2 linked regions of the Homo sapiens genome follow. Each later gene encodes a partner of the first gene's protein in a complex. Each region holds a gene or a part of one and is shown on either strand. Other genes may lie near its edges. The genes, in order: SMAD1 and SMURF1.

Region 1 (16,037 bases):
ATTCTTAAGTAACATCTTTATTAGTTTTCCAGCCACCAAGTTTAGAAACTTAAGGATATATCTCCGACATCTCTTTCTCATTACTTTATAGCCACATAATCACCAAGCCTTCATGGTTTTTTGTTTTATTTTATTTATTTATTTATTTTTAAATCCTTCTCTTTCCATGTCTACCTTTACCAGAGATTTATCATCTCACACATAACTCAATAGCTTTCTTACTGATCTCCTGGCACTGGGCTCTATCCCTCCAGTGCAAACTGCATGTTCAAACACTTTCAGTGACTTCCCAATGTTTCCTTATTCTGGCACTCTAAGGCCCTAAAATTCTCACTGGAAGTCAACCTTTCTGAGCATCTCCTCCACACCACCATACTAGGCTCCATGAGGAACACCCACTGAGGTCAGGCAGGGCTGCTCACTGCCTCTGGATCTGTGCTATTTGATATGATAACCACATGTGGCTACTGAAACATAAATTAATTTTTTAAAAAATGCTGTTCCATGTGTGGCTACAGCTACTGTATTAGCACAGATGTGGAACATTTCCATCACTGCAGAAATTCTATTGGACAGTGCTGCTCTACAGATACTCAACACTCATGCTTATCTCCCAGTTTTTCATGCCATTACTCTGTCTATAATGTCCCTCTTCCTTCTGCCTATGCAAACTCACATGTCCTTCCAGGCCACAGTGGTCCTGATGTGAGTTGTCTGTACAATTTACTCCTATACTACCTTGTAACGGCTCTTATAATGTTGCTGCATTTAATTTTTCATGTTTGTGTATACTCTAATTATTAAGCCTCAGAACTAATAAATATTCAGGGAATAAATGAAGCATATACTTATTACAATACTGCAGCAAAATGATCAAATAAGGGCCCATTTAATATCCCTCCTTCATTAAAAAGATACGTTTCTTTTCCATCTAAACAAACAAAAGATCTTGCATTTAGTTAACTGAATAATGGCTTAATTAATGCCTAATTATAACCGTTGAGAGAGTCTCCCCCCCACCTTTTTTCTTGAAGTGTTTGAAACTAAAAGAAAAAAAAGCTATAAAGGTCTGGAATACTTCTACTTTGCATAAGCACACCACAAAGAAACCACACACACACACACACACACACACACAAAAAGACAGGGAGAGGATAATACATGAATAGTTGGAGTAACTATACCCTAACAATCTCAGATTGTAGAGCAAAATATCCACAGTACAGCAGCCCTACAATTAAGGGGAAACTACAAATAAAGCATTAAAACTTATGTATAAAAATATATTCTGAATCAACAGAGAGACCCCTCTCTCCTCCTCTTCCCAAACAGGACCTAGTGAATATTCATTTACATCCTGAACTCAAAAGCATATACATGCATAATTAACAATTGTATGTTCTTTCTTCAGATCCAGGCTTATTGTCTCAAAAAAAATATTTGTTAAGAAACCAATCTATACTGCAAACCTAGGTTCTTATTAAAAAAAAAAAAGTTCCTTTTTCAAACACTAAGAACATAAAAGAGATTTGGGAAAATCACCAGGTAAGGACTTCCTCACACCTTAGAGAATTTAATGCTTTATTTTCAAGAGAGAGTCTTCTCTAAAGTTCAGATTTTAGCTTATAACAAAAATTATAAAGATGCTGAACTGTTCAAATACTGTAGTTCCCAGTACCTTACTAAAACTCTGATGTAGTCACTGGAGTGAAACTGCTTATGAAACTTTTGGCTTTTCTTTTCTGAAAGATAGTTTCCTTTATGCAAATGAATGTTCTAGAGAAGCCGCTCATTTCTGCAAGTCAGCCCGCAATAGCTACAGACATTACTGTTTTGCATATAGGACTAGCCCTGCACCTCTAAAACTGACACCATCTTAATAACGCAGAGCAAGATGAGTATTTTAATTTAGATTTTAAGCAATTACATTAATACTATTTGGCTCTGCCTTTTTCTTCTCTTTCCTTTTCTTTTTAAAGGTGGCTACAGCAGAGTGATGAAAATACTTCAGGTATTTTTGCTGCAAATCAGATGCCAGATCAACAGATTAGACTGAATATTTGTACTACCAGATAACAGCAGGAAAGGAAAATAAAGGGTCAAGAGGTTTCAGATTGGGGCAAAGAGGACATGCCCCTATTTGTTATCAAAGTATGTCCTAAAATCTTGGTACCAAAGAGTAAAACCACATATAGAAGTAGCAGAACATTTCATCAACCTCAAAGACATGCTATGACTTAAAACCGATTTTTTCCACTTTTTTATATTTAAATTATCCTTTTTCTCCTCAGACCTGTCCAATTCTCTCCCTAGGACTCCCTAGCTCCCTAAATACCCCAAACTTTAGCTTTTGGTTAGGAATGTGATTTGTTTTCGAGAGTCAAGAGGAGATTCGTATATTTTGCTAGATGTCAGAGTTGCCTGCTTTAATTTGAACTTTGTGCAATCTTGGATCTCCCATTTTCTAATAAGGTCTCATTGATTAAATTAGATATAGGGCTTTTCTTTTCCATCTCCAGAATGAAAAAGAATCAATTTTAATATGTAGAAAATAAGCATTTCTCTCTGGTTGTCAGATTTGATTCCTACTTAGCTCAAACAATGTTAGGTATAAAAAGTTGCTAACAGGCCAAAAAATTCTTTCCTCCCTTCCCTAAATTACACTGGATATGCTTACACCAAAGCCTCAGAAATATCGTGAGCGTGGTAGGGAGAAAAAAAACCTGAAAACAAAAGGGCACTTAATGCCAAGAGGAGTCCAGATCTTGGCTTTCCCTTTTCCAATCACTAGACAGGTAACTTTGGATGTCAGTTACCTTCTCTGGACTTCAGACTGTTCACCTTGATATGAACCAACCAGATTAGAAAATCTTTAAAGCAACTTTTAATACTAAGTATCTCTATTCTCTGTAAAGGAAATTACAAATCTTAATGTTTATGAAAGCACTTGGCAGTCCCATGGACATATTTCACCCGAAAGACCATGAGATTTGGATAGTTAAGTGTACACATTAACTCACCATGACATATAAGCATTTTGGGATAGGAAGGTGGGAATAAGAAGATACAAGATCCATAGTTTCATCGATTCTTAAACAGCCCTGACCTTGTAAAACATTTACAAAAATAGATGTTGAATGTTTTTTTAAAAATCCCCAATGAATTTGCAATTACTATTCTTACAGTGTTTAACAGCTCAGGGAAGATAGACTAATTTTGGTAAGACAGACAAACTGAATTACTACAACTTTCCTCCTAACTTAATATCAGTTTGTGATTATGTAAGAAAATGCAAGAGGAAAGTGACAAGAATTATGCAGAAAAGCAGAGATAAAACTAATTTGGCTTTGAAATGCATTATTTTCATGCCAGATTTATTCTTCAAATTATGTGCTGCTTAGATGAGCATTATTTTTCCTTTCTTAAACACTTACAAAAGAACGACAGAAGATAGCCCAGAAAGGCACAATAGAAGGTAAATTTATTTAAAGACCTACAAAATACACAAGCCAAGTCATGTCTATACTGGCATAGTAAAGCACAGCAGAACAATGATGATTTGGGTCTTCTGAACGAAAGACCAAAAAACATAGTTAAGATGGAGTTTCTAGAGTTGGACTGCCTCGATCATATCCCAGGTAAGATTAGAAATCATAATCATTCACTGTACCTCCTGAAGCAAGATACTGAATCATTCTGTCCTCAGTTTCTTTACCTGTAAAATGTGACAACAATAGTACTTATGGAAGTTTTGAGGCTTAAATGAGATATGGGTATTATAAACAATGCCTGGCATACATACAGTAAAAATTCAGAAAAAAGGGTTAGCTACAATTATTTCTTCTCTCTAAGGCTCTAAACCAAATTAGAATCGATGACACTAATAATAAATAAGATCTACAGAAAAGTCAAACTCCTTTTATCCAGCAGCTTCAACTGTCCCTTCCAAATTGTGTTTTATTTTAAAAAGAACAGCTAGTTAGTGATAAAATTAGTTTATATATGTCTTTCCATCTTTGACTCCACAAATCATTAGTAGAGTTAACAAGTGAGAAGAGGTAAAGGTCCTGGGGCAGCAATGGCTAGCAGAACCTCCTGTGATGATGGAACTATTCTATATACACGCTGTCCAGTATGGCAGCCACTAACCACAAGCAGCTACTAAGCACTTGAAATGCGGCTACTGCTGAGAAAACGAATTTTTATTTAATTTTAATTTAAACTTAAATAGCTATAAGTAGCCGAGTGCAGTGGCTCACACCTGTAACCCCAACACTTTGGGAGGCCGAGGCGGGAGAACAGCTTGAGCCCAGGAGTTCAAGACCAGCCTGGGCAACATGACGAAACCCTGTCTCTACAAGAAATACAAAAACAAATTAGTCAGGCAGACATGGTGGCAGTGCCTGTAGTCCCAGCAACTTGGGAGGCTGAAGTGGGAGGACTGCCTGGGCCTGGGAGGTCGAGGCTGCAGTGAGCCATGATCGTGCCACTGCACTCCAGCCTGGGTAACACAGAGAGACCCTGTCTCAAAAAAATAGAATAATAAAATTTCAAAAAAAGCTACGTGTGACTATGGCTAGGATAGCAGAGCCCTAGATAATCCATAAGCTAAATAAGGATTGTCAGAAACTTAAGCAAAATAAGGATCTTCTTTTCCTGAACTGTTTATATGTTCAATTCAAATATCTTTGTTTCTGGTATAGGCCTGGTAAGTTTGACTAGTTAAAGAAATAACATGTCAGTAGATATCAATACAGTGAAAATTCAGGGGTAATAAAAGGATCAAAGTTAAGTATGTGGTCCACTGATATTTTATAAGGTCCCTAAGGCCAAGTTAAATTCAAACTCACATGAAGCATTCAGTACACATATCAGAGCTGCAAAGGTCCTTATCAGCATCCCTAAAGCATCTGTTTCTCCTCTACCAAATGAAAAGCTACTTATACAATTCAGATTGAATATCTCTGCATTTATCTTAAATTTTTCTACAGAAATTCATAGTTCTGTAAGCCTTTTCCCTCTTTCACACACACTGGTATCCCTGGCCATCTCAGCCTTTCCACTATAAACAAAACCCATGTACCACCCATATCTGAAGTATAACGCCAGACTCCTGCTTAGCTACCCCTGTAATATGGTTTAATTATGATGACTGAACTAATAGGCTGACATCATAGACTTTTACAGGCTGACCCCATGTCATCCTGATGTATCATTTTGCACCAGTTCAGTGCTGTAAATCAATTTAAGATCTCAAGCAGGTTGAAAAGGCTGGTAATGATGCTTTCTCTGCCGTCTCTGGAGACTCTACATTATACCCAACTTACATTATTTATAAAGCCTCAGTGATGCCTCCATTAGCCTTGTAAGACTACACAAATGAGATCTTTTATACACACACACTTGGCCTTGATTATGTAGGCTACTGCAGCTTAAACATGCTAGTCTAATTACTATACCCAAGCTACTTCTTTTTCCAATCTACTAGGTTATTAGATTTAATATTTAACCCAGAATTGCTAGAAATCAAAATTACAAAGTGAAATTTAGTTTTTAACTAATAAATGTAATAAACGTAGTTGAGAAAATGTGACAACTTCCTCTTAATGCCTTAATGAACTTAGTAAAAATAACATAAAATTCCAAGAAGTGTAAGAGGCCAATGTCTTTAATTGCCTAAAAATTGTCATTTCTCTAAAACACAAAGGTCATCAGCTCTTCAAGGATACGAAACCAAAGGATACTGCAAGAGGTAAAATGTATTTGGTTACATACCTATGGTTGTAGGGGTCAAAACTAAATCAAGGACAAATCCCTACCCTCAGAAGAAACTCGATCCTGCCTGGATCCTCTAGAGGCTCTGGCATCACCCACCTCCAGAAAAATCATCTCTCACGACCCTAGCTACACCTTCCTAAGAACTGCAGTATTACACCAATGATACACCACCTGCACAGAAATAGCAAATAATTGCAAATGGGAAAGAGAGTGGGAGAGGGCAGAACAAACACTTTAATCAGTACAGCATATTTAGATCTGGCACCTACATCAGAATAACACTGATGCAACAATATTTATACCAATTGAAAATGCTGGGGCAGTGAACACTTCTGTTCCGATTCTTTTTTAACACGGTCCACCTACCTTCAATACAATTTAAAGTAATTACAAACAATTTGAAAAATCAACATGGGCAGGGAACAGTTTTCTCATTGTGTTACTGAGGTGTGGGCAAGTTATCCACAACAGGCAATTAGACCCAGAGATGTTCTGAAATAGAGGCATTCTGAGATTTAGCGGCTGAGAGTTTCAGCAACAGGAAGAAATAACAGAAATCATGCAACTTCTGTATCATTCCACGTACTTTGAAACTTCAGATACAATGGAAAGAAAAGAGGGGGGAGGGCAGAGAAAAAGGACAGTTGTCTCAGCACTCACGAAAAGGATGCTTTCTCAGGAGATGGTTCTGAGACCGGCCTCAATTTTCAGAAGGAACGCGCCTTTACTGGTTATCTTGCACCGTGTATTTAAAAATTGCATGCTCTTCAAAATAAACAAAAGCTCAGCTACTGTAGCTGTGAGATCTGGCAGGCATTTGTTCCTCCTCCCCTCCTAAAGCACATCAAGAAAACGTTCTCCCTTTAAAGCCTTCATACAGTTTCAGCAACTAGAAAAACAAGCCCACATCTGTCTCTCACGCCCACCACCCCCACCTTCCTACAGAAACAACCCCGAGAAACACTAACAAAGACAGGGAGCAGAGTAAAGGAACAGTTGTTCAACCGCGAACTCACGAATACACATGCAGTGAGGCAATCGACTCCGGTAAAGGGAAAGGAACGAGACACCAGGAGACGCAGCGGGTGTAGGCGGAAGAGGGGGAAAAAATTACGCGCCGCCGCCAAACCTTTGAATAAATTAGAGGGGATCTCGGTGCGAACTTTCCTTGACCTCGACCCCAAAGAGGCTTGCTGGGGCCGAGAAGAAAACCCGTGCGGGATGTGGAGGGGCCCGGGGCGCCGGGGTCCCCCGCCCGCGAGACCCGCTCCACCAGGCGCCTTGGAGAGCAGCGCCAGCGGTCGTCCTCCAGCTCCCGCAGGGGTCGCCCCGCCGGCGCGGGGGACACAATGGGTCCGCGGGCCACGCGAACGGGCCTCGGCCCGGCGGCAGCACGGGAGAGATGTGAGGAGCGCGCGGAAGGGGAGCGCGGCCGGGGAGATCCCAGCGCGGTCAGGCCCGGGAGCCGAGGCTCGGGGGCCCGGGAACTGGGCTTCCCACAGCAGAAGACCCAACAAAGACACCAGGGGAGCCCGGCGGGCTGGGCGCGAGAAGACGTGGTAGCAGGTTCGCTCCTCCGAGCAGACGGGAGGCGCCATCATGGGGGGGGGGGGTCGCGGCCCGCCCCGCGCAGAAAGAGCCCCCTTCCCGCCGCTGCCCGCGCCCCCAGCCCAGCACGACCGCGGCGGCCCCACGCGTGCAGAGACGGCGGCGGCGGCGCTGGAAAGCCCGGGGCGCCGAGGGGAGGGCTGGGACGCGGCATGAAGGGAAAGTTCGGTTCGGGTCTGTTTCGTTTTACCGGGTTGGCGGCGCGCCCGTCCGTGTGGGAGCACGAGTGGCCGGGCGAGCGGGGTCTCGCGGCCCGGGTCCGGACGGCCGGGCGCTGCGCCACTCTCCGCTCCCCGAGCCTCGGCCCGGGTTGAGCCGCTCGGCCTCTCCTTTCTCCGCCCGCCCGCCTGCTTTCTCCTGGAGCCTGGATTGATCTGGTCGCGCTGGCGTCAGGGAGTCGGAGCTGCCCAGCCTCCACTCCTCAGCTGCCAATACCCGGCGCACTCGCCTGCCCGCCCGCCCGCTCACACGCTCACCCGCTCACCCGCGCGCCGCCGCCGCTGCCGCGCGACCAGGGATCCTCTCCAAATTCCCGGCCCGGCCGGCGTGAGCGCAGCGCGGCCGGGGCCGGAGGACGGCGCGGGGGAGCGGCCGGAGCCACCCCCTTCTACCGGCAGCCCCACGCCCCGTTTCTTCCTGGAGAAAAAACAGTGTGGCGGCGTTCAGGCTTTCCTAACCCTGCCTTTTTAGTCCCGGTGGAGCGGACTTAGTCCATTATCTGCAAGTGAATTTCGATGTTCCATATGTTTATTTTCTGAAATGTTCATTAACGCTTCCACCGCGCCCACTGAATCGTTCTATAAACGTGGAGTGCATGTTGACAGTTACCTTTCGAGACGCGCCCTTTTATGTCTATCTTTCGTTGCCCCTCACTCACTCTCCAATAATTTGCAGGCCCCAGAAGTTGTACGTACCCAGAATTGGATAGCCTAGTAAATACTGCACGTGGTTATACAAACCCTGAGTCAACAGATGCGTTTTGTGTCAACTCAGGATCCAGTGATTCGAGTAGGTAACCTTGTTGCTCCAAATAATGGCATGCCATAAGGAGATACTGCTTTAGAACTCCACATTTTTGGTCCAATTTCTACAGTCTTTTAGATGATGCCAACTCCCCCGCACTTAACTCTTACCTACCTGATCTGCATAGACATTGAAAATATCTTCTTGCAAGAGTCAACTTTTCTCTTGGCTAACTCTTGAAGCTGCATAAAATCTTGCATAATTACTATAATGTTGAGTTACGTTTAGAAAAAATGATTTTTTTTTGAGGAATAAATTTCACATGAAGCAAAAAAAAAAAAAAAAAAATCACTCCCAGCAATGTATATCAGAATATGTCTTCTAATTAAATTCCTTTTTCCCTTAACCTATTTGAGCACTTACTGGTCAATTCGTGGGCCTCATCTTATTTTCCCTAAAAGCAGCGTTTGACGCAGTTGATCATTCTCTGCTCCTTAGAACAACAGGAAAGTGAACCTTGTTAAATGCCACTCGGATCAGGCCACTCCTCTGTTGAAAACCCTCCCTTGATAAATAGTATAAAGTATCCCATACAAGAGAACATTATTCAGCCATAAAAAGGAATGAAGTACTGATACTGATGCATGCTACATGGATAACCTTTCAAAACGTGAAGGGAAAGAAGACAGACCACACATTGTATTCTTCCACATATGTGAAATGCTCAGAGTAGGCAAGGCTATGGAGACAGAAAGTAGATTGGTGGTTTGCATAGGGTTGGGGAAATGAGGAACCTGGGGAGTGACAGCTAAAGGTTATGGGGTGACAAAATTGTTCTAAAACTAGTTTCTGGTGATGGTTGCACAACTCTGTGCATATACCAAAAGCCATTAAATTGCACACTTTAAATGGGTCAATCATTTGGTATGTGAATTTTACCTCAAGCTATTAAAAAAAAAGCATGACAATGAAATGCAGTATATGACCTTGATTGGATCCTGAATGGGGAGGAGGAGCTATAAACTGTCATTTTAAAGTCGTTAATTTTTAAAAAAATCAAAAATGGCATTTATTTAATTTTGAGACGGAGTCTCGCTCGGTCGCCCAGGCTGGAGTGCAATGGCACGATCTCGGCTTACTGCAACCTCTGCCTCCCGGGTTCAAGCAATTCTCTTGCCTCAACCTCTCGAGTAGCTGGGACTACAGATACACACCACCACGCCCATCTAAGTAGAGACGGGGTTTCACCATTTTGGCCAGGCTGGTCTCAAACTCCTGGCCTCAAGTGATCCACCCGTCTCAGCCTCTCAAAGTTCTGGGATTACAGGCATGACCCACCGCGCCCAGCCTAGATGGCCTTTCTTAGTGCAGTCCTAGTAGTCTTAAATGATAACTATTAATATTATTATGTATGCAATAAAATTTGATTTTGCCCATTGTGCAAATTATTTCCTTAAATGATAATAAAAATTTGGATATTCTTTTTAAAAGGACATTGATGAGACCATTATAAAAACCTAAATATGGACTGTATATTAATATCATTTTATTAAATTTTTAAAAAATCCTCCCTTGGGTCCTCATTTCACTCAGAATAAAAGTTCCCATAATAAGCACAAGACTCTACATAATCTTTCCTTCCCCTCCTTTAGCACTCTGACCTGCACTTCTACTCTTCCTCTTGCTCACTTCCCCAAGTCACACTGGCATCCTCACTCTTCTGGAACAATCTGGGCACATTCTCACCTCAGTATCTATGTGCTAGCTGTTCCCTCCCTTTCTGAGTTCATTTTGTGTTGCTGTAATAGAATACCACTGATAGAGTTTGGCTATGTATCCCCACCCAAATCTCATCTTGAATTGTAGCTCCCATAACCTCCATGTGTCATAGAAGGGACCTGGTGGGAGGTAATCGAATCATGGGGGTGGGTTCTTCCCATGCTGTTCTCGTGATTGTGAATAAGTCTCATGAGAATCTGACGGTTTTATAAAGGGCAGTTTCCCTGCACACGCCCTCTTGCCTGCTGCCACGTAAGATGTGCCTTTGCTCCTCCTTCACCTTCTGCCATGATTGTGAGGCTTCCCCAGCCGTGTAAAACTGTGAGTCCATTAAACCTTTTTTTTTTGAGACAGAATCTCACTCTGTCACCCAGGCTGGAATGCAGTGATGCAACCTCAGCTCACTGCAACCTCTGCCTCCAGGGTTCAAGCAATTCTCCTGCCTTGGCCTCCCAAGTAGCTAGGACTACAGGCATGCACCACCACGCCTGGCTAATCTTTTTTTGTATTTTTTAGTAGAGACGGGGTTTTGTGGTGTTAGCCAGGCTGGTCTCAAACTCCTGAGCTCAGGTGATCCACCTGCCTTGGCCTCTCAAAGTGCTGGGATTACAGGCGTGAGCCACCGTACCCAGCCCTAAACCACGTTTTCTTTATAAATTACCCAGTCTTGGGTATTTCTTCATAGCAGTATGAAAATGGACCAATACAACCACCAGCTGGGCAGTTTATACACAATAAAAGTTAATTTAGCTCATGGTTCTGGGGGCTGAGAAATCCAAAATCAAGGGGCTGCATCTGGTGAGGGCCTTCTTCCTTCATCACAACATAGCAGAAGGCATCACATAGCAAGAGAGAGAACATGAGAGGAAGGGTAGAAAAGGGCCAAACTCATGCTTATATCAGCAATCCCCTCCTGAGATACCAAACCGCACTCCCATAATGCCATTAATCCATTCATGAGGACAGATCCCTGTTAAAAGAAAAACTTTAGGCAAATTAAATTTAACAGAGTTTAATTGAGCAAAGAGCAATTTGAGAACTGAGCAGCCCCCAGAACCAGAATAGTTTCAGAGCAACTCTGGGGCTGCCACAGGGTCAGATGATGTTTATGGGCAGAGAAAGAAAAGTGACAGAAAATGGAGTGAGGTACAGAAAAAACTGGATTGGTTAGAGCTAAATATTTGCTTTATTTTAACACAGTTTGAACAGTTGGCTGCCTGTGATTGACCAAAACTCTGTGATTGGTACAAGAGTTGGCTACAGTCTGTTTGCATATCCAGTTAGGTTACAGTTTGCTGTGTACAGAGAAACCTTTAGGCCTAACTTAAAATATGTATGGGCCGGGCGTGGTAGCTCACGCCTGTAATCCCAGCTACTCGGGAGACTGAGGCAGGAGAATCAGTTGAACCCGGCAAGCGGAGGTTGCGGTGAGCCAATATCATGCCATTGTACTCCAGCCTGGGCAACAAGAGCAAAACTCCGTCTCAAAAAAAAAAAAAAAAAAATATATATATATATATATATATGTGTGTGTATATATATGTATATACATATGTACATATGTATATATACGTATATATATATATATGGAGGCAGCTTTAGCCTAAACTTAATTTAACAGTCCTCATGACATAATCACCTCTTGAAGTTCTCACCTCTCAACACTGTTGCGCTGGGGATTAAGTTTACAATATATAAACTTTGGGGAATGCATTCAAACCATAGCACTCCCTGGACAGCTCTTCCCACAGATGTCCACATGGCTCACTCCTTCATCTCCCTCAAGTCTTCACTCAAATGTCTCCGTATTATTTAGCCAAAAGAGCAGGATTTTTGGTCTTCTGTGTTCATTGCTATAATCTCAGCACCTGAGCAGTGCCTGGTATTTAACAGGAGCATATTAAATACCTGTTGAATGAATGAGTAAGTGAAGCACTGTTCTAGCAGGGGATATGGTGGCAAGCAGAAAAAAATCCCTGCCCTCATTAAGGAAGACAGATAATAAATAAATACACGGCCAGACGTGGTGGCTCACACCTGTAATCCCAGCACTTTGGGAGACCGAGGTGGATGGATCACGAGGTCAGGAGTTCAAAACCAGTCTGGCCAGCATGGTGAAACTCCATCTCTACTAAAAATACAAAAAAAAAAAAAAATTAGCCGGGCATGGTGGCATGTGCCTGTAGTCCCCGCTACTTGGGAGGCTGAGGCAGGAGAATCACTTGAACCCGGGAGGCAGAGGTTGCAGTGAGCCGAGATCGTGCCGCTGCACTCCAGCCTGGGCGACAGAGCGAGACTCCATCTCAAAAAAAAAAATAAATAAATAAATAAATAAATACGCAAATATGCTAGGTAGTGGTACAAGTGATGGAAAAAACAGGGGAAGAGGGATTGAGAATGGGAGAGATGACTATTTCTAAAGGGGCAGAGGAAACCTCACTGCAAGAGGTCCTGAAGGAAGGGAAGGAAGCACAGTACACACTCTGAGGGATGAGTTCCCAACCTCCCAAGCAAAAGGAAGAGCAAGTGTAAAGACCTAGAAGCTGAGTCTACTTTACACATCCACTGAAAAGCTGGGGGGCAGGGTTGGGGACAGTGCAGTGATGTAGGAAAAGCTAGTGACTGGAGGGAAGGCAGAGTGTGTGGACCCAGATGCACACAAGCTGGTGCTTGCTTGCAGAGGTGAGAACGCAGGGATGGTCTCTTCTCACCACTCTCTCATCTTAGTGAAATTGCCCGGGAACCTGCTTCCCGAGAATGGTGGGATTGAAGAGATGCTGGAGGTTGGAAGAGAGAGGAGTAATATCTAAGTCATCTGGTAGGGTTTGAGAGTGAATGAACTGTGGAAATGTGGTAAGATTGCTACTATTAAGTGTCCATTTGAGGTTAGCGGCCATTAATTAATTAATTTTTTTTTTTAATTTTTTGAGATGGAGTCTTGCTCAGTCACCCAGGCTGGAGTGCATTGTCACAATCTTGGCTCACTGTCATGATCTCAGCTCACTGCAACCTCTGCCTCCCAGGTTCAAGTGATTCTCCTGCCTCAGCCTCCCTAGTAAGTGGGATTACAGGCATGCACCAGCATGCCCGGCTAATTTTTGTATTTTCAGTAGAGACGGGGTATCACCATGTTGGCCAGGCTGGTCTCAAACTCCTGACCTCAGGTGATCCACCTGCCTCAGCCTCCCAAAGTGCTGGGATTACAGGCATGAGCCACTACACCCAGCCTAGTGGCCATGAATTTAAAGTAAGACCAGTCAGCATGGCTGTGGGTTTTTCTCCAGCCTCGGTTAACCTGAGGGGACAGAGCTGAGTTTAACTAGGGCTGGGGTTTTGCAGGTGTATGTCAGGGAAGGGAAGGGGATCAGACAGCAGAAGCTATAGGCAATAGAGTGACTGTCGGGGGTCTGTGATAGGAGGAAGGCGAGAACATATAGTAATGTGAAATGTTGGAAAGATGATAGGATCCACCGAGTGAAGCTCCTAGTGTGGTCCATGAGTTACTGGAGTTGGGAGCCTTTCCCAAAAGCTGGGGAGCAGTCTGGGAATGAGATACTTGAAATTGAAATCATGATGCTGGGGCAGTTTTGAGCAATGCCAAGATGTAGGGGTGTGACCAGAGATGGCGGATGGCTGAGGTAGAGAGGAGGACAAGATCCTTCCAGAAAAGGAGATATTAAGGAACTGAAGGCAAACTAATTATGCTAATCAGTTTATCAGGAAAAAATCAGCTACTAATCACTTATAATAAGACGAGTCCTTAAAATTGGCTGCAAATTTTATATAGGCAAAATGTAAATCCAAAAACCTGTTTTAAGAGATGATTCTACTCAATAGAAAAATAAATGTAATGATTTATAGTTCAGCTCCCTCAGGGAATTTAAGTGACTCAGTTTTCCTGGAATGAGCCTGCCAAGGATCATTGGTGTGTTATTTTTCATATTAAAAGGAACGCTGGCCAGGCATGGTGGCTGATGCCTGTAATTCCAGCACTTTGGGAGGCCGAGGTGGGGGTCAGGAGTTCGAGACCAGCCTGGGCAACATGGTGAAACCCCATCTCTACAAAAAATACAAAAAATTAGCCAGGTGTGGTGGTATGTGCCTGTAGTCCTAGTTACTCAGGAGGCTAAGGTGGGAGGATGGATTGAGCCTGGAAGGTCAAGTCTGCAGTGAGCTGTGAGGATGCCACTGTACTCCAGCCTGGGCCAAAGAGCAAGACTCTGTCTCAGAAAAAAATGTTGTTGTTGTTGAAATCCTTTATTCTCTCATCACACCCTTTGCTCCAAAGAACTTATAGCTGTCTGTAATTATGAATGTATTTAGTCAAATTATTGAATATCCAGTGAGAAAACCCCACTGCTCTTCTAAGTAATATGTGGGTGGGAGCTGTATCTAGTTTGTGTTCCCATCTCCAAGCCCAAAGTTTGCACAGACCTGTCATGGCAGACCCTCAAATATTTGCTGAAAGAATAAATCTCTAATACAACTGTTGCGGTCAAATACAAATTGGTATTTTTTCTTAATTACAGCTAGTAATTGTTCTCATTATTGCCCCCAAGTCTGAAATTCAGATCTAATTATAAATTGTAGGAATTAATAAAAAGTTGTCAGCCCTTTTCCTGAGAGTTTTGTAACAGTCTATACATTACAAAGTTCCATGTGAAAATTCTATGGTAAACATTATGATGGCAGTAGAACTTATATTTCCAGCTTCTTAAATTTGTGGGGTGATTTGGTTTGGCTCTCTGTCCCCACCCAAATCTCATATTGAACTGTAATCCCCATGTGTCAGGGGAGTGACCTGGTGGGAGGTGATTGGATCATGGGGGCAGATTTCCCCCGTGCTGTTCTGGTGATAGTGAGTCAGTTCTCATGAGATATGATAGTTTAAAAGTATAGCACTTCCCCCACCTCGCTCTCTCTCCTGCTCCACAATAATAAGACGTGCTTGGTTTCCCCTTCAACTTCCACCATAATTGTAAGTTTTCTGAGGCCTCCTAGCCTTGCTTCCTGTTTAGCCTGCAGAACTGAGTCAGTTAAACCTGTTTTCTTCATAAATTATCCAGTCTCAGGTAGTTCTTTATAGCAGTGTGAGAATGGACTAATACAGAAAATTGGTACCAGGAAAGTGGGGAATTACTATATAGATACCTGAAAATGTGGAGGCAACTTTGGAACTGGCTAATGGGCAGAGGTTGGAACAATTTGGCGCACAGAAGACAGGAAGATGTGGGAAAGTTTGGAACTTCACGGAGACTTGTTGAATGATTTTGACCAAAATGCTAATAGTGATATGGGTAGTGAAGTCCAGGCTGAGTTGAGCTCAGATAGAAATGAGAAAGTTATTGGGAACTACAGTAAAGGTCACTCTTGCTATTCTTTAGCTAAAAGACTGATAGCATTGTGCCCTTGCTGTAGAGATCTATGGAACTTTGAACTTGAGAGAGATGATTTAAGGTATCTGGCAGAAGAAATTTCTAAGCAGCAAAGCACTCAAGATGTGGTCTGGCTGCTCCTCACAGCGTACAGTCGTATGTGTTCACAAAGAGATGGTCTGAAATTGGAACTTATGTTTAAAAGGGAAACAGAGCATAAAAGTTTGGAAAATTTGCAGCCTGACCATGTGGTTGAAAAAAAAAAAGAGCCATTTTCTGGGGACAAATTCAAGCTGGCTGCAGAAATTTGCATAAGTAAAGACAAACCAAATGTTAACAGCCAAGACAATGGGGAAAATGTCTCCAGGGCATGTAAGATACCTTTGCAGCAGCCCCTCCCATTCCAGGCCTGGAGGCCTACGAGGGAAAAAAGGTTTTGTGGGCCATGCCCAGGGCCCTGCTGCTCTGTGCCACTTTGGGACATGATGCCCTGCAACCCAGCCCCTCCAGCTCCAGCCATGGCAAAAAGGAGCC
Region 2 (15,473 bases), on another chromosome or scaffold:
CAACTACCACGCATTGCTTTCAAATATCAATATTGTACTTTCTAAACTGAATGTGCTGGGTGTATCAAAGGTGTTTACCTAAGCAGGCTTTCTGCCAATAGTTCGTGCTACTCTAAGAGGTTACCGGCACTACCATTTAACCTGCCTTTACCTCCCAAACAGGTTTATTCAAGCAATAGCAACGATGTCCAAAAACATGTCTCATATTTTTTCTAAATCACTGAAGAAAAGTAAATAACCGAAGTTGCCAAGCCAATCTTAGGTGTTATATAATCCATTATTTAAGCCTACAGAATAAATGAGTGATTATTAAATTTCTAGTGTTGCAACACGAGGCCAAATTCAATGTTAAGTTTAGAACAAAAACAAAATTGAAAAGAAACTTTAGATCATACTCTATTATGTTTAAACCAAGACAGATGGTGTATATTTATGAGTATGCAAACAATTCCCAGGACTTCCAAGTCAGAGGCAGCCCTAAAACCATATATCATTGATTTCAAGACACATTTTTTCATATGTTTTGAAATCTTCAAATGAATCACATTTTGCAATATAATTACCTGTGTTTCTTTTTACGTAGTACATAAAACAATGGTATGACTTGCAAGCGGTCATCTTAGATTCATTGAAATAAGACCATGTTACTATTAGCTAACACATATTGAACACATTATGTACCAGACAGTGCATGTGGATTATTTCATTTACTACCCACAACAACACTGAAGTGATTCCAGTTATTTCCCCATTTTTACGTTATGTTATTATTTTAAGATGGTCTCACCCTGTCACCCAGGCTAGAGTGCAGTGGCACAATCACAGCTCATTGTAGCCTCAACCTCTTGAGCTCAAACAATTCTCCCACCTCAGCTCCCAAGTAGCTGGGACTACAGGTGTGCACCACTATGCCCAGCTAATTTTTTTCTATTTTTGTATAGATAGGGTCTTGCTGTGTTGCCCCAGCTGGTCTCAAACTCCTGGGCTCAAGTGATCCTTCCACCTCAACCTCCCCAAATATTGGGATTACGGGTGTGAGCCACTGTACCCAGCCTTCCCCCATTTTTATAGCTAAGGAAACTAAGAAATGATGTCATTTGTGTAAAGGCACAGGCTGGCTCCAGCCGAGCCCTTCATCATTCCACCTTGCTGATTCCACAAACGGAAGAGCTTGGCGGTCTGTGGGATTCAACCATTCCTGGAACACAGGTTCGAACTTCAGCGAAGCATCTTACAAAAACTTTTTTTCTTTTTAAGAATATAGAAGTGAAAATACAGAGCCCCAGATATCAAGAACAGACATTAATTCAAAGAATTTATTATAGGGTAGGGCTGATAATCAACTATCCTATAAAAATCATATTATTGCATAAAAACTAAATTATTTTTCTTTCTACACATCCTGAATTCAATTTACAGATAATCAGCATGTATTTCTCTCTCTTAAAACTGCTCTGTTATCTCTAGAGAAATAATTTAAGAATGTATTCCTATAATCTGTACCTGAATTTTGTTTAAAAATACTCCCAAATAGGCTGGGCATAGTGGCTCACACCTGTAATCCCAGCACTTTGGGAGGCTGAGGCGGGCCAATCAGCTGAGGTCAAGAGTTCAAGGCCAGCCTGGCCAACATGGTGAAACCTATCTCTACTAAAAATACAAAAAATTAGCCAGGCGCAGTGGCACATGCCTGTAGTTCCAGCTACTTGGGAGGCTGAGGCAGGAGAATCACTTGAACCCAGAAGGCAGAGATTGCAGTGAGCTAAGATCACACCACTGCACTCCAGCCTGGGTGACAAAAGTGAAACTCCGTCTCCAAAAAGAAAAACAAAAAGTCCCAAATAACATTATACAACAATCCAGGAACATTCTGCAATACAAATTGACAACAAAATTTATGGGGCTAAGTTCACATATAAAGGTACCACTCCTAACCCTTGGTCAAAAATTCTTGGCACTTTTACCAAATCTTTTGCTTCATACTACCACAAAGAAGGTATACTTCTTTTTCAGAAGTGCATTAAATGGTAGCTGTACCTTCCTTTTACTCAGCATAATGAAGCTAACATTATAAATTTTAAAAGAAAACAATCGGTATCATCTAGTTATTTATTGATTGCCCACCTGGCATCCATATTCCTGTTCCCCCAAACAACCCAAGTCTGTATTGTGGGTGGGACTAACCCCCTGATTAGATTCAAAGATGGAACCTAATTGTCCAACGAGCACATCCCATCATCCCAGCCACAGCGGTTGGTTCAGCAATGAACACTTGACCCAAATTAGGCCAATGAGACAAGAGGATTCAACTCCAGGCCTTCTACCCCAGGACTGAGCTGTTGAAGAAGCAGACTTTTAACTTTTCTGCTGGATTTAAAGCTGCAAGCAAACAGCCATGGAGCTTTTGAGCACAAGGGGAAGAGATGGTCATGAATAGTGCTGAGGTCAAAACACTGAGATATAGAGAGAAACCAGGTCCTTGCTTTGCCATTGGAATGACTTGGGCTTTTCAGTGAAGTCACTAAAATTCTCTCTATTGAGCTAATTTAACCTAGGTTTTCTGCTACTTACATCTGAAGGTATCCTGCTTTTAAACAACAACAACATTAGGAAGTGCGATATTGTACATAAAAGACAGAATTAAAAATGTGGAAATTAGCTGAAGAAAGGAGGCAGGGTGAAAAATCAATGAATACCCTCCTCACCCGGCCTGAGAATTTAACTATCTTTATTATCAGGGAAAGAAACAATCAGACTGTGGTCTGATGCAACCACCAAGACTACAAGGAACACTAAGGGACTTGGTAGGAAAGAATCAAGGAAATGGGTAGGTGGGTGGTTCTTGCCTGTAATCCTAGTACTTTGGGAGACCAAGATGGGAGGATCGCTTGAAGCCAGGAGTTCTGGACAAGCCTGGGCAATATAGTGAGACCCTGTCTCTACAAAAAGTTTAAAAATTAGCTGGGCATGGTGGCTCATGCTGAGGTGGGGATGACTTGAGCCCAGGAGTTTGAGGCTGCAGTGGGCTATGACTGTGCCATTGTACTCCAGCCTGGGCGACAGAACAAGATCCTGTCTCAAAGAAAATGCAGTGAAGAGGGAGGAAAAGAGGCCCTTTCTGCTACAAAATGCAATCTAGGGGAACCAAGAGATAGGATGAAGAAAGAAAGGGAGGGAAGACTTAGCAGGAGATAAGGCTGTGGGGTAGGGTGAGCAAAAGAAGGCTTCCCCAGGTCTCTCCCAAGCACTCAGGTCCAGTATTCACAGCCTGAAAATGGGAAACGTTATTCAAGATGCAACCGCAAAGCTTGGGCAAGGGGCAAATGAATGATGTCTCTCCAGCCCAACCAGTTATCCCCGCCAGCCCTGAGGGAGAGGCTAAGGAAAAGACCTGGAAACCAAAAGCTACAAAGCTGGGCCAAATTCCAGAATTAAAATTTCGGGCTTTGGTTCAAGCCCCTGGAATGGCCCAGAAGCCCAAGATAGAGTAGACTTGCCTTTTAGGGTATCACATAGTCAAAGAAACCCCAAGCCTGGCTGACAACAACCTGTAATTGCTTGATCTCTAATCCCTGCTCATATCAACAAGAAGTGGCTATGAACGCAATGCTGCCTCCAGGAGAGGTGTCCTCCGACGCCCAACTCAGAGGCGACCAGGAGACCCAATAAACAAGGAGGGCATTAATTCTCTCATTCACCAGGTATTTGTGAGCACCAGCAGGTGCCAAGCAGTGTTGAAGGGGATACAGAAGTAAACAGACAGCAAGGACCCTAGCTTCACGGAACTTGACTACCAAGAGCAGAGACAGAAAATAAAAATTGATTGGACATTGGTAGATGGATGATGGGAGAATAACCAAACAAAAATACCATGAAGTGGTGAGTGCTATGAAGACAGCAGAATAGGCTGCCTGATCGTGAGTGAGGGAGGGACTATGAAGGGATGGTCAGGGAGGGTATCCCTGAGGTGATGATATTTATTTAGGCTGAAGGCCTGAATGACAGGAAGAAGCCATTGAGAAGTCAAGAGGAAGAGTATTATAACATCACACAGACACACGGACACACACACACACACACACACACACAGAGGAATAATTCATGCAAAAGCCCTTAAGCAGGATTAAACTCGCCACATTTGAGGACTGGGGTGGAGAATAAGGCAGAACCTGGCACAGAGGCTGCCAGAGAGGAATATGGCAGGATCACAGAGGGAGTTTGATTTTATTCTGAGTAGGGAGCTGCTGGAGGGCTTTAAGGAAGGAAATGACATGATCTGATTTATGCTCTTAAAAGATTTGGGGGTGACAGTTTAGTGGTTGCCAGGGTCCCAGGGACTGGGGATGGGTGGATGCGGCTAGAAAGGGATAGCTCCAAGGAGGCTGGGGTGGTGGTGCAGCTGGTCATCTTGATTGCAATGGTGGTGATATGAATTTGTACATGGGATCAAACTGCATAGACTGCTACACACACACACACCCCACCCACACGCAGTGCACGCGGAGCTAGTGAAATCTGACTAAGCTCTGGATTGCACCAATGTAAACAGTTAGTTTCCCGGGTCTTTTTGCTTGCATTATTTTGCCCTTACTTTTTCCCTATCGTTAGAACCCATGAACAAGTTCCTGGTTTTGACATGCCACAGTTATACAAAACACTAAAATTGGGGGAGGCTGAGTGAAGGGTACACAGGACCTCCCGGTACATTTCTCTCCCATCTCCTGTGAATCTATCATTACTTCAAAATTAAAAAAGAAAAAAAAAAGGTCTCTAAGGCTGCCATTTAAGGTATAGATTAGAGAAAAAAGAAAGTAGAACCACAATATGTGACACCAATCCACACTCAAGGAAAGGGTTAAAATGAAAAAGAAAACACGCAGATTGGCAAAGGAGCACCTGGAACTCTCATACGCCACTGGTGGAAAATGTAAATTGGTATAACCACTTCGGAAAAGCATTTGGCAAGTTTCATTACAGTTGAACATATGCCTATTCCACAGTCCAGTGACTCTACTCCTGAGTATACACCCAACAGAAGTGTATGCAAATACTCACCAAAAGACATATACCTGAAAATTCCAAACAGCACTAGTCTTAAAAGCCAAAACTAGAAAGGACTCTGCCCATCAACAGATAAAGGGATAAATTATGGTATATGCCCATAATGGGATATTGAACAGCAAAGAGAATGACTGACGTACAACCACACATAACAATACGGATAAATCTCACAAAAATAACATTGAACAAAAGAAACCAGTTGCATGCAGTAAGATTCCATTAATACAAAGTTCAAAAACAGGCTGTTACAAGTCAGGACTGTGGTTATCTTTGCCAGGGGGGTGCGGCTGAGGGAGGTAGAAAGTGAGAATGAGCTATTTTCAGGATTGTAGGGACATTCCAAGCACCAGCAATATTCTATTTCTTGATCTAGATCAGGAAAAGTGCTTCTCCACCCACTTTTTTTTTTTTTTTTTTTTGAGACAGGGTCTCGCTCTGTAAGGCTAAACGTGCCTTATTTCCAGAGTTTTTTGGTTTTGTTTCGTTTTTTTTTGCAAATTCTACTCCTGAGCAATTTGTTTATTTTTCTCTTTTCCCCAATCCTTAGAATCTGTGAACAATTTCCTGGTTTTGATATTATACCAGAGTTTTACAAGGGACTAAAACTTCTACCCATGTTTACAGGTATTTCCTCACCAGGCTCAAGTGAGGAACCACGCGAGAACCCTTTGGAAACTATGAAACACTGTACAGACGGGAGGTATTAGTATCACTGACAGGTATGAACAGGCAGCAAGCAGGTCTCACCTCTATAATTTGTAGGTAATATATGTAGAAATAAAATTGAGTAAACTTTGGATTTTTTTTACCCCAAAGACCTAAGAGGGGAAAAAAGCAAATATATCACATTGAAGTTACCATGTTTTCTACTTCTACAGAGCCAGATGCCAATATTGCTTTTTAAAGCACTTCTAAAATTAAAAACAATCCCTTAAAAAAGTTCATGGCAAACACATTGACTATAAATACTTGGAAAAATACTAAATTATTATTACTGGCTTATGCAAATGAGCATTTTACTCCTATTTTAAAGATGAGATTATTTTATAAAAATAGGTCAGAGATAACCCCAAATGACATTCTAAATAAATTATGTAAACCACTATTATTCAGAACCAAGACCTCAGTTTTTTAAAGAACTCACTATATAAACAAGATCTAGAGTCCAAATTTCTTAATCTGAAAGTAATCATTTTGCCTTATTTTAATATGATAGAACAAGCTTTTTGGGGGGTCAGGCAACTCGCTATTACATAATAAACATACTCTCTGGGAAAATAAGTCTGTTCAGAGCTATAAGACAAGTAGCCAAGAATTTTATTCTGTAGAACCCAGGAATCTTCCTAGTGAGGAAGTCCTTATAAATATGAGTATGTACTTTGAAATGCTATAATATTTTAGCCTTTTAAAATACATTCGGCACAATCATTTTGATTTTTCAGAATGTCTACATTTCAAAACAATTGGCAGTTAGTGTACTTACTAGTTGCTCTAAGAAATTCTTATCTATTTAAGAGCTTTTTAATCTTTTTAATTGTTGAAAAGCAATACATGCTCAAGGGGGTGAGAAAAGGGAGGAGATTAAATATTACAAAAGGCATATAATGAAAAGTCACCCTCTCTTCTCTCTTTTCTCTCCTCTCTCCCTCTCTCCTCTCTCTTTCCTCTGAAGAGGAGAACAGGAGAATCTCTTCAAAGGAAATCAACAGTCAAAATCTTTCAGTCGTATTCTATACAGACCTATCTATAGATTTCCCCCTTTATTTTTATTTCTTGTTTTATTATTCAAATAGTACACACACTAGCCTCTGTTTTGAATCATGCTTTTTCCCCCCACTCAATAATATATCTTGGAGAATGTTCCATATCAGAATATAAAACACTATCTTATTATGTTACAGCTACACATCATTGGGAATACACGATAATTTACTTAACTAGTCCCTGCTGATACACATTCACATTGATTTCAGTCTTTTATAATTTCAAACAATGCTGCAATGATTTTACACACCGGACTTTACATAAATGTGTGAAAACACCCATAAGAAAAAAGTCCTACATGCAGAATTGCTAGATCAAAGAGCATAAACATTTATGATCTGATAGACAGTGCCAAACTGCTCTTGGTACCTACTCTATCAATTTATATTCTCAACCACTAGAGTAAAAGACCTGTTTTTCCACACTCTTGTCTCATCACAGAAGATTTTCAATCTCTTTGATCTGCCACTCTTCTAGATGAAAAATTGTTTCATTCTTACTTTTAATTTGTAGTTTGTTTAGTATGAATAGGGCTGATTATCAATTAAAAATAAATTTTTAGAGAAAGAAAATGGGCATAAGAGAGAACAGGGCACAGCGGCATATACTTGCAGTCCCAGCTACTCAGGAAGCTGATGATCGCTTGAGCCCAGGAGTTCCAGGCTGCAGTGAGCTATGATCACGCCAGTGTACTCTAGCCTAGCCTGGGCGACAGAGCAAGACCCCATCTCTAAAGAAGAAAAGGAAAGAAGAAGAGAGAAAATAGGGTTGTCTTTTCACATGTTTCAAATCCATTTCCATTTTCTTTTCTGTGAATTGTCCATATTCTTTGCCTATTAGGTACTGGCCTTTTCCTAATTGATTTTGAAGGCTCTTTATATATTAGGAAAACCAGACTTTCATTTTCGTATCCATTACAGATTGTTGTTCCTAGTTTGTCTTTGCATGTTGATTTTATCCTATTTTTTGCCATGGAGAAATTTTCCATCCAGCTAAAGTTTTTTATTGTTTATAAGTGTTTTTCAGCTGATCTTTTGGGCTTTTAAAGATATATCATAACGTCTATAAATAACAGCAATTTTGTTTCCTGCTTTCTGATGTCTTTCTCTAGTTATTAATAATAACTATTTTGACAGTGTACATCCCTGCATTGTTCCTGATTTTAATGGGAATGTTTCCACAATTTCATCATTTAAAGATGATGCTGGCTAGGTGCAGTGGCTCATGCCTGTAATCCACGTACTTTGGGAGGCTGAGGCAGGTGGATTGCTTGAGCTCAGGAATTCAAGACCAGCCGGGCAACAGGGCGAAACCCCATCTCTACCAAAACTACAATGATTAGCCAGCCGTGGTGGCACATGCCTGTGGTCTCAGCTACTCGGGAGGCTGAGGTGGGAGGATCACTGGAGCCCAAGAAGTCGAGGCTGCAGTGAGCTGTTATGGTGCCACTGCACCCCAGTCTGGGTAACAGAGTGAGACCCCATCTCCAAACAAAACAAAAAATAAACATGATACTGTCCGATGGCACATTACCTGGCCTGGGAAAAACATAAAATAAAAATAAAGATAATACTGGTTTTGGCTTCTAACACTATTTCTCTAAGGAATTTCTGAATACATAATTTATCAATTCATTGTATTATTTTTCCATGTTTATTAACCGGTTCTATAGATTTTCTTCAATGTCAAAGTACGTTATTAGCTTTATTATTTACCTGGCTATTTAGGAATAAGACATAACAGGAATCTATGACTGTATTAATACTGTGCTACTCTATAAATAATTCATAACTACTCATTAAAATATTTAATCCATCTCTAGCAGGTCCTTTTGTGCTCTAAAAAGACAGATCTCTGGCATTAAAGATAGGAAAACTGAATCATGAAAAGATCATAATCCTATGCACCCCCTCCCCTTTCTTCATTGTGGTACTTGTGTGAATTAGAAATCAAATTCAGACCTTCTGATCCCCAGTCCAGTGTTGGAACCACAGGAAAGCATCATGCCCTTTAGAGAACTCAGCGGATGCCCAACATACAAAGAACGCAGGCTGCCATCTACAATCTGCAGCTTCGTGACATGCTCCTCCAGACTCCTGAAAGCAAGCTGCAAGTTGGGCTCCGGAGCTTAAAACATCTGAAATGCATCACCCAGCAGCCAGGAGGATAGGTTCCTGCTCAGTGATAAACGATGTTGCCGACATTCCTCAGCCAATTAGAATTCCTTTCAGCTGCAGTGGAGGTGAACACAGCTGGAATTACAGAGTGGGGCGCGTCACCAGACGCGCTGATTATACATTATTTAAGCCTTGTTTTAAAACAATATGAGGGTGTTTTTTCCCCCATTAGTCCAGAAATGTGGAAACAACATTCCACTTGGTTTAAATATCTAAATGGATTAAATTGCATCTGGAGACAAAACAGTAATAGTGACATTTTAAAAAGAAGATATGCCCAAGCCCCATAGCTATGTGCTTTTGTTTTTTAAACATAGCTCCATGGCTTTCCTTTAACTAGAAAGGCCTTAGGGACTTTAGTCAGTCAGAATGAGTTCCCTGGACAAGAAGCTAATTTAAGTTGGAGGCTTTCACTTACAAATTCACTTACAAAATAACAAACCAGTAATTTAAAACTTGTTCAGTGACAAAAAAAAAAAATTGTATATTCCTTGTTTAAAAAAAAATTAGCCTCTAAAATGGTTTTGAAATTATAAAAAATTGATCCAAATAAGCATCCTAAAAGTTAGCTGTCTTACCCAGCAAATCAGAGCATGGCGAAGATATCAAGTTATTTCATCCATTTGAGGCTTTTTTGAACCACTGAATAAAACGCACAATTCAGCTATTTTAACTGTTAACCAGTGCCCACGATGTTGTACAAAACAGCCAGTCTAGTTAACTGGATCACTGAGGTGATATTGAAACACTATTTGTCGTTTTGTCTTTTTTTCTTTCTTAATCCATGAGGAAATATTTCATAAATAACACAGCCTCCAAAACCTTTCTTTCACCCAATTTTCCACACTAGAACCTGACATTGTGACTGAACCGAGAAAATGAAAATGTGTGGAAGAGAAAGAAAAACCCAACATTCAGAAAGGACTTTTGTAACTGCAAGACTAGAGGTTTTAAACTCTGACAGATGGACTTGAAGTTAAAAATCCTAGTTTGATAAATCACAACTACTGTAAAAATGGAGATAGAAATAAAGCATATGAAAGATTTCATGTCTAAAGTCAGTTGGGTGGGCCAAGAAGATTAAAAGGAAAAAAAAATGGATTTGAAAAAAGAAAGTTGTTCTAAAAGGCAACACAAATGTGATCAAATCACAAAATCAATGACAAAAACCTCTATTTGGCAGAATGTGATTCTTCTTAAAGTATAATTGCAATTCAAGTTTTGCAACAGCATTTGTTCTAACCCATCCTACACCTTCCAATAATTCATCTCAAAGAACTGCCTTAACTGTATCTTCCTAAACTTGAGGCAGACCCTAAGGAAAATGTAAATGCAAAGGGAGCTAAAAACTGACCACTTATTCCATCTTATCACAGCAACTGTGTTATATGGTTTTTGAAACAAAAGTTTTGCCTGCCTCACATAAGTGAGGTTCTTAGCTGGTACAAATTGACAAAGTCAACAGTCTTAACAATTTTCTTAATCTTTCTTGAGAGACTTAACTATTTTGAATCAATTGAGACACCTGTAATTCATCAACCAACATCATCAACAGCTATTACCACAACTATTTCACTCACAGTTGCACCATCTGAATGCCAAAACACAAGTCACCCTTACATCCCACAAGCTACAATTTTAAAAACAACCTCATATTTCCACATGCTATCAAGGAAAGTCTCTTTGTTCCTCTCTGTTTGGAATTAGAGTTTTTCTTACTTCACAATATGCAGTCATGCTCCAAAAGATATAAAAACACCAGGATATCTGAGAGTATTTCAATGCATAAAAGCACAAAAAAGTTTAGGCACTTGTATTTCAACTAATTGGTTGACATTACAATAAAATTTAATTTTCTTGAAGAGCATTGTAGAACCCTGAATTCCATTCTTTTACCCAAAGTGGCCTAAACAATGTGTCTGGGATTCATTTGTGTACCAGATAAGAACAAAGTTTTTGCAAATCCTGCTTGATTTTTCAATCAAAATGTTTCTAAAGTGTTTGATTTGCCAGTGAACTCCAATGACTACAAGATAATGCTCTTTAACAAAAGATCACTTGATTCTGGATATATTATGCCCCTAAACCTACTGAAACCATTTAAAAACTATTTTCCTACTAAAATACCACAAAAACATTCGTTAAAATGTTATTATTTTAAATACAAAGGCTCAAATATTCTTCTACTGTTTAGACCAGGTTGCCAAAGCAGTTCAACATATTACCCAACAGTTTTCAAAAACAATCCCACATGAAGAAATAAAGTCATAAATGTAATCAATACACAAAATTAATGCTTGGCATAAATCAAACACATGTGCTACACTCCAACACAATTTTCTGAATATCAGGATTAAGAATACCACTAAGCCCAAGTGCCCAACAGTAATTTGAAATAAGTAGGTAGCTAAATTGATATATCCTGTGAGAAGGAGGATCAAAGAGTATTATAATGGAGCTGAAATCTCATTTGATATATAAAGAAACTGAGACCCAAAAAGGTTAAATAACTTGTTCCGTAACATGTAGTTAATGAGAAATCTGTCTAGAATCTAGGTCTCCTAACTGTAAATCTAATGCCCTATTCACCCCCAAATAGAATCGTGGACCCCAAAGTTCTAAATGTAGTATCTTCAGTATCCTTTTTTTTTTTTTTTTTTTTTTTGAGACAGAGTCTCACTCTGTTGCCCAGGCTGAAGTGCAGTGGCACAATCTCGGTTCACTGCAAGCTCCACCTCCCAGGTTCAAGCCATTCTCCTGCCTCAGCCTACCCAGTAGCTGGGACTACAGGCGCCCGCCACCACACCCAGCTAATTTTTTGTATTTCTACTAGAGACGAGGTTTCACTGTGTTAGTCAGGATGGTCTCAATCTCCTGACCTCGTGATCCGCCCCACCTCAGCCTCCCAAAGTGCTGAGATTACAGGTGTGAGCCACCGCGCCCAGCTAATTTTTTGTATTTCTAGTAGAGACGGGGTTTCACCGTGTTAGCCAGGATGGTCTCAACCTCCTGACCTCGTGATCTGCCTCAGCCTCCCAAAGTGCTGGGATTCAGGCGTGAGCCACGGCGCCAGGCCATCTTCACTATCTTTGCACTGAATTTCGCTCTGTGTCTATTCATTGACTGGTTGAAATATCCCTCATTTTTAACAGTCTTTTTTTTTTTTCCAAATAACAAACATGGAAATAAACTCTGAAACCTGTAACAAAAGTATTCAAATTTTGAAAGATTGCTTCTCAACATCCCAGAAGTGAGAATTCAAACTTCCCTTAACCAGAAAGATGAGACTAAAACCTATTCCACCGTCAACAAACTTCTAGTTCAAACCTTTCGAGGTAAACTAAGGTTCCACGTACTGGCATTGCATGTGTACCATTACCGCTAAACCGCAATCCTATTGTAAGGATGATCACACTCACAAATCCTCTCAAACCATTCATAACATCTACTGAAAGGGAAAGGGAAAGGGAAAAGGTGTTTCAGAAACAACACTCATCACCTGATCCTTCCCTATCAAATGTCATCCAAAAATTCCTCAAAGCATTCTTGCTTCGATAATCTAAATTCCTAAATCCAAAAATAATTTGGTAGGAGGAGAAACCAAGTCCTCCCTTTCAAGGCTCAGGCTTGGCAAATAGGATTGATTAATATACATACACCAGACATAAACATTTCAATTAAAACCTATTCCTTCTAAAACATTCATCATATTTCTAACACAAAATCAGTTGCTTTCGCTTTTAACAAGATAACTGAAACCAATCTGATGTCAATTACAGACTGAGCTGTAAATCAGAACCAAGTTAAAAGCTTTACAAGTATTACAATCTCAAAAATGTTACTTTTATCTTACCACATAAATAAAAATGTATCTACATTGTATCTACAAAGTGAGAAGCGTTTCCTATCAGCCCTGGCATAAAGAAATGTATTTCCCCAGAAGCAAAGATCCCAGAGGAAACTACCTCCTACGTTACAAAACCAGGGTCTGGGTTTGGGTCCAAATCATTATTTGATATCTTTATACAAAAAAACAAAACCTTCTCTTAAGACAAAAGTTGGGCCATGCAACAACTATGGGCTCTCAAAGTAAATTTTAGTTTAAAAAAATTACCTATTGTTTGCATGGATTTTACCGATGACTTTATGGCTGCGCATCTGCCATAAAGTGTTCAAAACGCTCATTCTCTCTTTGAAAGGACCTGACCAAACCAGGACTTTGGAGTTCTCACCCGACTGAGCCACTGAACAGAAAAATCCAGGGGAAAATCCCTGACGGGGATTAGAATGAACTTTTTAGTTTCCTTCCAGAGCTGGAAATATTCGAGTTTGGAAAGTCCCGGAGCAGAGCCGCATTTGCAACACGGCCATCCTGCTTTAGGGATGAATTGAAACTGGAAAGAGAGTAGTACCAATGAGAGTGAGAAAGGGAAGACGAGGATGCAGCCTGGTCCAGAACCTCTGGAGCCCGGGGGGAAACAGGTTGGCATCACATCCGCGCCACCAAGTCGCAGGCCCGCGGCAGAGCGTTGCGCTCACCCTTGAAGGTGGCACTACAGAGCCACCCAGGAAACACGGACTTTTCATTGAAGACAAAATGAATCAAGGAGCCTGCGTGTGGGCAGCTTCCAAAGCCTCCAGTGAGTGTGGGAGTAGGGATCAGAGCCTCACGGCGCTCTGGGTTGCTGAGTGTGGGGGTGATGGTGAAACAAAATGCAGAAAAGGTAAAAATTGAAGAAGCAGAGTTAAAAGTAGCTAGCGGTCTGGCCTAAGAGACAGGAAGTGGCCCAGACTGAGACTGAAGAGGGCTGGACCAGGGGGAAGTGAAGAGAGCAGGACTGGGAGCAGCTACAAGATAGGATTGAGGAATTTCAGGCTGAAGGAAAGAAAGGGTGGAGGCCTCGCCAGACAGCAGCGAGGGGGCGGGGCTAGGCAGGAATGAGGGCGGGGCTTGAAAGTGAGGGGCGGGGCTAGGGGAAGAAGGGAGGAGGACGGTGTGGGGGGGTGAGGGAGAAACGAAAGAGGATGGGGGAGTGAGAAGAGGGTGGGTGGGGGCAGGAGGGGAGAAGCAAGGGGGCAAGTGGAAGGGGAGGTAGCAAAATAGCTTGGAAGTGGTGGGAAAGACCAGGAGGATGAGGGGAGGGAGCAGGTGGGAGGGAAAACAGGAAAGCAAGAGAGATGATGGGAAAGTGGTGAGAAGTGAGGGATGGGACCAGGGGAACAGAGGCAAGGCCAGGAGGGAAAAGCGAGGGGGCAGGTGGGCGGAGAGGATGGGAAGCGAGGAGAAGGAGGGAGGGGGTAAAAACGGCGGAGGAGAAAAAAAGGAGAGAAGCAAGGGGGCGGGACCAGGAAGAAGTGAGGGCCGATGCTAGGAAAGAAGTGAGGAGGCGGGACCAGGAAGAAGTGAGGGCCCAGGCTAGGAAAGAAGTGAGGAGGCGGGACCAGAGAGAAGCGAGGGAGCTGGACGCAGGGAGAAGCGAGGGGGCGGGGACAGAAAGTTAGGAGGCGGGAGCAGAGAGGAGCGAGGGGGTGGGGCCAGAGAGATGGGCGGGGTCAGGTTTGGGGAGGAAAGGTGGGGAAGAGAAAGGACCACAGGGATGGAGGTGAAAGGCAAGGGGGCGGGGCCTGGGGGGAGAAGCGAGGGGTCAGGTGCTAGGGAGAGGAAGGGAAGCGAGAGGCAAGGGGCCGAGCCGGGGAGAGGTGAGGGGAAAGGGCCTGGAAGGAGATGCAAGGGGCGGGGCCAGGAAAAGAGAAGCGAGGGGCGGGGCCAGGGAAGGAGATGCAAGGGGCGTGGCCATGAATGGAAATGAGAGGGGCGGGGCCAGGACGGAGATGCGAGGGGGCAGGTGCGGGGGAACGGGAGGGAACGCGAGACCGAGGGGGCGCGAGCGGCCAGGGGGCGGGGCCGGGCAACGGCGAGGGGGCGGGGCCAGGAGGGAGAAGCGAGGGGCGCACGCCGAAGGGGGTGACGAGGTCCTGGGACAACGGCCGGCGTGGGGGAGGGCCGCTTCCAAGGGCGCCCTGCGGGGAATTCCGGGGCGGGCGAGGGGGCGCCGGGGCGCGGGTGGGCCTCCCGCCGGCCGTACCTGTCAGACGGATCTTGATGCTGGAGCCGTTCCTGCGTGTCCCGGGGTTCGACATCTCCCGCCAACGATCGGGCAGCCGCGGATCCAGCGCCACCGCCCCCCAGCCCGGCCCGGCCCGGCCCCGCCGCCGCCGCCTCAAGGTTACGGCTCCGGGCTGGGCGCCGGGGTCCGAGCCGGGACACAAACTCCGCGGCCCAGGCGTCCGGGCGGCAGGCGGATGGTCGAGCCGGGAGATCGGCGCTTGCTGCGGCGCTCTGACCCTCGCTGCTTCCAGCCGAGCCCAGTCCCGAGCCGCCGCCGCCTCCGCCGCCGCCTCCGCCGCCTCCACCACCTCAGAGCCGGACGCCCGCCGCCCTCGCCGCTTCCGCCGCTGCCGCCGCCTCTC

The links.
Region 2: the proteins of SMAD1 (region 1) and SMURF1 are in contact, whole or in part, in an NMR structure (PDB 2LB1), measured with the Homo sapiens proteins. Residues at the interface, in NP_001003688.1 of Homo sapiens: Asp221, Thr222, Pro223, Pro224, Pro225, Ala226, Tyr227, Leu228, Pro229, Pro230, Glu231, Asp232; in NP_065162.1 of Homo sapiens: Glu313, Val314, Arg315, Ser316, Arg321, Tyr323, Val325, Asp326, His327, Arg330, Thr331, Thr332, Gln333, Phe334.

Annotation. Positions count from the first base shown.
Region 1 is NC_000004.12:145,473,578-145,489,614, reverse strand, and holds the start of SMAD1 (mothers against decapentaplegic homolog 1), read right to left. Parts: upstream 7,763-16,037; 5' UTR 7,577-7,762; intron 7,282-7,576; exon of another isoform or gene 6,439-7,281; intron 6,390-6,438; exon of another isoform or gene 4,851-6,389; intron 1-4,850. UniProt on the Homo sapiens protein: Transcriptional modulator that plays a role in various cellular processes, including embryonic development, cell differentiation, and tissue homeostasis.
Region 2 is NC_000007.14:99,128,638-99,144,110, forward strand, and holds the start of SMURF1 (E3 ubiquitin-protein ligase SMURF1), read right to left. Parts: upstream 15,472-15,473; 5' UTR 15,144-15,471; coding exon 15,089-15,143; intron 1-15,088. UniProt on the Homo sapiens protein: E3 ubiquitin-protein ligase that acts as a negative regulator of BMP signaling pathway. Mediates ubiquitination and degradation of SMAD1 and SMAD5, 2 receptor-regulated SMADs specific for the BMP pathway.